Regions from separate parts of the Homo sapiens genome. Here region 2 is linked to region 1. The links come from fine-mapping of genetic effects on gene expression. A gene starts in region 1. The other region holds a variant in brackets. All regions are shown on one strand. Distances are from middle to middle. Region 1 holds the start of ZXDC (ZXD family zinc finger C). Region 2 overlaps ZXDC (ZXD family zinc finger C).

Evidence for each region. PIP is the estimated chance that this variant, and not a neighbour inherited with it, causes the effect.
Region 2: its variant is fine-mapped to the expression of ZXDC in whole blood (TOPMed, PIP above 0.99).

The regions. Positions count from the first base shown.
Region 1 is chr3:126,474,166-126,477,071 of GRCh38, reverse strand. ZXDC (ZXD family zinc finger C) reads left to right here and starts at 1,181. Exons shown (of 10, transcript NM_025112.5): 1 at 1,181-2,113. The coding sequence starts at 1,207. RefSeq lists silencers at 912-1,421, 1,492-1,751 and an enhancer at 2,309-2,834.
Region 2 is chr3:126,443,218-126,446,123 of GRCh38, reverse strand. The region is part of intron 7 of ZXDC (ZXD family zinc finger C); the gene reads left to right. Among named protein-coding and RNA genes, the nearest start is that of ZXDC, 31 kb to the left of the region's middle. The variant G/A (reference allele first, on the strand shown) is at 1,308.

The sequences.
Region 1 (2,906 bases):
GAGGTGGGGTGCGGGGGAGGGGTGGGGGGGGCAGCGGGAGAGTGGCGGGAAGTGAGGGCAAACAGGTAGGGGAGGGTAGACTAGCAAGGCCATAGGCGCCTTCGGGAGCAAGGTGGAGGTGAGCATAATTTGATGTGCAATTTTTAGATCATAAAACGGTGCCCCGTGGATGGGAGCGAGTGGAGCGGAGGGAGACCGATGACCAGCTAGTAGTTATTTTTCAGGTACCCAGGAATAAAGTGCGGGTTTGGATCTGAGTGGTGGTGAAGTTGAAGTGGAGGAGTCCAGATTGAATGCGGAGGTGTACGGTGAGGTGGGGGAGGGTGAGGACCGGAAACAGTAAGTAATTAAGCTGTTGCAGAGTGAGGTTGTGCCAAGTTTAGTAGGAAATACAGTTGGAAATACAGGCAGGGGTCCTGCGTATCAGGGAGGCCCCGTGTGCCGAGCAAGGACCTGGGCCAAAGCAAACGAGGTCTGTGCGCCAGCGGCGGCAGGCGAGCTTGCACTTAAGTGAGCTGGGGGTAGGCGTCCGGCCTGTTGGACAGGTTCGAATCCTGGATCTGCCGGCTGCCGAGTGACTCGAGCTCGCCGTCCCTGTTTCCTCACCCCTGGGTGACCGCGCACGCTTAATCAGCTCGGACAGGTACAGCCCCTGGGACGCAGTCAATGCCTACGAGAGGTTGCCTGTTAAGTGTCTGAAATATTAATACGATTCGAAGTCAAGACAAGCCTCGTCTTCCACGCCAGCGGGAACGAGAAGGAATCGCTCAGCGTTGGGAGCCTCACCCCGTCCCCTGTCGGTCCCGTGCCCCGCCGCTCGCCCTCGTAGGTGCCGGCGCTCCGCCCCCCGACCCCGCGCCCCGCCCCCCGACCCCGCGCCCCGCCCCCCGACCCCGCGCCCCGCCCCCCGACCCCGCGCCCCGCCCCCCGACCCCGCGCCCCGCCCCCCGACCCCGCGCCCCGCCCTAGTCGGTCCCGGCGCCCCGCCCCCGCCTCCGCCTCCGGCGCCCCGCAGCCCAGCCTCACGTCACGTCAGCCCAGCAGGCCTCGCGCATCGCCCGGCGGCGTCCGCGCACGCGCGGTTCCGAGCCGGACTCTACGCCGGGGCTTGGCGCGGATCGCGTCCCGGGGCGGCGCACGCACACCTGGGCGGGGCGCGGGCAGCTCTGCGTCCGAAGCTGCTCCGACGCCGTCGCTGGGACCAAGATGGACCTCCCGGCGCTGCTCCCCGCCCCGACTGCGCGCGGAGGGCAACATGGCGGCGGCCCCGGCCCGCTCCGCCGAGCCCCAGCGCCGCTCGGCGCGAGCCCCGCGCGCCGCCGCCTGCTACTGGTGCGGGGCCCTGAAGATGGCGGGCCCGGGGCGCGGCCCGGGGAGGCCTCCGGGCCAAGCCCGCCGCCCGCCGAGGACGACAGCGACGGCGACTCTTTCTTGGTGCTGCTGGAAGTGCCGCACGGCGGCGCTGCCGCCGAGGCTGCCGGATCACAGGAGGCCGAGCCTGGCTCCCGTGTCAACCTGGCGAGCCGCCCCGAGCAGGGCCCCAGCGGCCCGGCCGCCCCCCCCGGCCCTGGCGTAGCCCCGGCGGGCGCCGTCACCATCAGCAGCCAGGACCTGCTGGTGCGTCTCGACCGCGGCGTCCTCGCGCTGTCTGCGCCGCCCGGCCCCGCAACCGCGGGCGCCGCCGCTCCCCGCCGCGCGCCCCAGGCCTCCGGCCCCAGCACGCCCGGCTACCGCTGCCCCGAGCCGCAGTGCGCGCTGGCCTTCGCCAAGAAGCACCAGCTCAAGGTGCACCTGCTCACGCACGGCGGCGGTCAGGGCCGGCGGCCCTTCAAGTGCCCACTGGAGGGCTGTGGTTGGGCCTTCACAACGTCCTACAAGCTCAAGCGGCACCTGCAGTCGCACGACAAGCTGCGGCCCTTCGGCTGTCCAGTGGGCGGCTGTGGCAAGAAGTTCACTACGGTCTATAACCTCAAGGCGCACATGAAGGGCCACGAGCAGGAGAGCCTGTTCAAGTGCGAGGTGTGCGCCGAGCGCTTCCCCACGCACGCCAAGCTCAGCTCCCACCAGCGCAGCCACTTCGAGCCCGAGCGCCCTTACAAGTGTGACTTTCCCGGTAACCGCGCTCTCGGGGGCGGGCGGGCTGCGCGGTGTTGCAGGCAGGTCTGGGGTGCCACGTCCGCCCCACAGAGGGGCCTGCCAGACCTTAGCAAGCCGGGGACGCAGGCTCTTCGGGATTTGTATTCTAGCTCCTTCCATGTCATTCGATTTGAGATCTTGGCCCTGCCCTGCCGCAGGGATTCCGATGGCAGGTAGCGCAGATCACCACAGCTGCGCTTCCCAAAGGTGGCGGCAACAGATATCCTTAACCTGCTTGTGCTTGATGAAAGCGGCACGCATCTTCACAGAGTGGCACGGAGCTATGTGTCAGGTCTTTATTTTCCTCAGTCTCGTCATTTGTTTACGGGGTGCACACTCCGTGCTAGAGGAGCAGAGATGAATGTGGCCAGATTCAGGACCTTAACACGCTGGGAGGATAGCCACAGGTGTGCGCACATCCTGGCTTTTTTTGCCTTTTGCACTTTGATTTCCGTTGAACCTCACAGTTTTGTGAAGTTTTAAAAATTAGCCGTCTGTGAAGGTTAAAAACTGTCCTCTTTTACAGATGAAGAGACAGAGGCCGAGCCTTGTGGATAAAGTCCACTGCTGGTGGCTGGGCGCGGTGGCTCACGCCTGTAATCCCAGCACTTTGGGAGGCCGAGGCGGGCGGATTACGAGGTCAGGAGATCGAGACCATCCTGGCTAACACGGTGAAACCCCGTCTCTATTAAAACTACAAAAAATTAGCCGGGCGTGGTAGCGGGCGCCTGTAGTCCCAGCTACTCGGGAGGCTGAGGCAGGAGAATGGT
Region 2 (2,906 bases), 31 kb after region 1:
TGTTCTATAAGGGTTTGTGGTTGTCCATTGTGAGAGAGGAATTTGATTTTTCTTGTGACTGCTTTATTAATTAAATTGATCATATTGCATTTGATGCCATGGCGCCCTTTACTAGTGAGGACCCAGGGCTTCATGGTTATCGTGAGGACGTGGTGTGGACCCCATTTGTTTGCTTTGGCATGTCCTTAAGCATCCCTAGATAAACATACTTGCTTAGTTAACCCAGGAAGTTTATGATTAACTTTCAGCCATCTTAAATGTTCACGACATACCACCAGACTTCAGGGTGTACCGTCAGGGATTCTAGGACAGAACACCCTGCTCAGGCCTGGGGGACAACTCAGCAACTGGGGCTTGGCCCCTCCTCCCCTGGCTGCCCTGTTCTCTCACAGCTGTTGGCCTGGACCCCTGCATCCTTTCCAGGTTCATCTTCCAGGTGCAGTCCTTGCTGGAACGGACTCTCTGAGAAGGGGTGTCCGAGCTCATCTGTGGCAGGTTCTCCCCCTCACCCACAGCTGTCCTTCTGCTTGCCAAAAAACGGGGAGGCTGCAACTCTCCACCAGACTTCTACTGCAGTGTGTTGCCTTGGAGTGCACACAAAAACAGGATATCCTTCCAGAGCACCAAACCCAGGGGCAGTTCCAAATACTGGTTTCAGGGAAGCATCCTGTAGAATAATACCGACATTAAAACTTTAATGAGCCGGGCTTGCCAGCTTACCCTTCCTGTGCAGAGATGTGTCTAGGGGTGGACGCTGAGATGTTCTGCTTGAGGTACATCAGAGAGGGGATGTGGGGCATGGATGGACATCTCTCGTAGAAAGTCCTCACCTTTGCCAGCCCTCTGCTGTTGTCAAAGAATGTATTACTTTTCAGGAATGAGCCCTATGTATGTATAAGCGTGAGCAATTCTTTTCAGCTATTGACTTTTTATCCCTAGACGAGTTGTTAGCTGGGAAGAAAAATACCTTCTGATGCAAATTAGTGGTGGTGTTTCTTCTCAGTGTAACTGGTGTCTACAGGACTACCTGAGACACTGAATTAAATGTGCGGATTGAAAAGAAATTCCTGTGATTTTTTTTCATATTGTATGCTGATACAGAAGTTGAAACCAATTTAGCTTGTCATGAGATATTCTCGTTACAGCCTATCTTTTTTCCTGTTGTAAAAGTAATACAAGTAAATTGTTAATAAAGATAGAATCATTTTAGTTACTGGTTTAGGTATAAAAGGAAAGTGTAACCATGTCTAGCAACATTAGTGGAATTATTTCTGATTTTGCACCCAATTCTGATTTTCCCATGATTC[G/A]AATGGCACATACATTCTAGCACACATTTTGCAAAGGAATATTAGGATTCAGTCATATTTCTTGCTTTGTAGGTAACTTAGAGCGTGGCGTACACATTTGGCATTGAATCATGATGAATGGCTCAGTTTTATCTTGTTTATGTTATAAAACTTGATAATAAATACTTGATATACATCATTTAAAATCTTGCCTGCTTTTAAAAGAAATCTGGAGAGATACACTATTCACTGCCTGCCTTAATTTATTCTACAGTGGTTTTCATATTATTATTATTTTTTTTTTTTGAGAGGGAGTCTCGCTCTGTCACCCAGGCTGGAGTGCAGTGGCATGATCTCGGCTCACTGCAAGCTCTGCCTCCTGGGTTCATGCCATTCTCCTGCCTCAGCCTCCCGAGTAGCTGGGACTACAGGCACCCGCCACCACCACTGGCTAATTTTTTGTATTTTTAGTAGAGACGAGGTTTCACCGTGTTAGCCAGGATGGTCTCGATCTCCTGACCTTGTAATCTGCCCGCCTTGGCCTCCCAAAGCGCTGGGATTACAGGCGTGAGCCACTGCGCCCGGCCAATATTTCTAATATAATAACATGTTTCAGTATTTTTATTTGAATTTAAAAATGAAGCCAGGCCTTTTATTAGAAAGCAAGCGTAATGCGACTGTTCTGGCTGCAGCACCGGCCCTGCTGCTGGGGCTTCGTGGGCAGGCAGTTCCCCCTCACTTGAATAAACTCAACCTGCAGCTGCAAAGTTGTGATGACACATGAGCATCTTATTTTAAAAAAGTTTTTAATTGACAAGAATAGATGCTGACCATGTCTAATTCTAGCAAGAAGTAATATTTAGACACAAATACATGAACTAACTGGGGAAGAAAACCACCAGTCAGTCCCACTCCTCTTGAAAAGCATTTTTAATATAATTTTGCTTTTAATATCATAATTATCTATCAAAGTTTCTGATATATTTTGTTTTGATTTGTTTTGCATTACTAATAATTGCAGTTGTAACAGTTCAAACCAAAAATGTTAATGCCTAGAAGTTAAATAAAAGTTAAGTTTATGTACATATTTTTATATGCTAGGGTGATAAAAGACTTGAAAGCATAGAAATGCATTCAGGTAAAATTCTGGAGGTAAGTGGGATAGTATACAAGCTCACGGAGGATATAGGCACGCTTCATTTTTTGCAGTTGACTTTTTTTTTGCTTTTTACAAATTGAAGGTTTGTGGCAAACCTGTATCCAGCAAGTCTGTTGGCACCATTTTTCCAACAGCATGTTCTCACTTCATGTCTATGTCGGTATTTGTTAGCAATAAAGTATTTTTAAATTAAGGTATGCATTGTTTTAGACATAATGTTATTGCAGACTTAATAGACTGCAGTACTAGGAACTGATGTGAAGTTTCCTCAAGGAGGGGTGAGTAAGTTTTGTGCCCCAGGCACCTCTCTTGCCCCAGACCCAGCCCTGCTCTTCTGTCTGAAGCAAGTAGAGCAATTAGAAAAAGAGAAACCAGGCGTGGAGAACAGTCAGAGATGATCCAGAGCGAGGGTTGCTGGGTTTTCTGGAACACTGATGGATGAACAGAAAGGAAGTATTTTG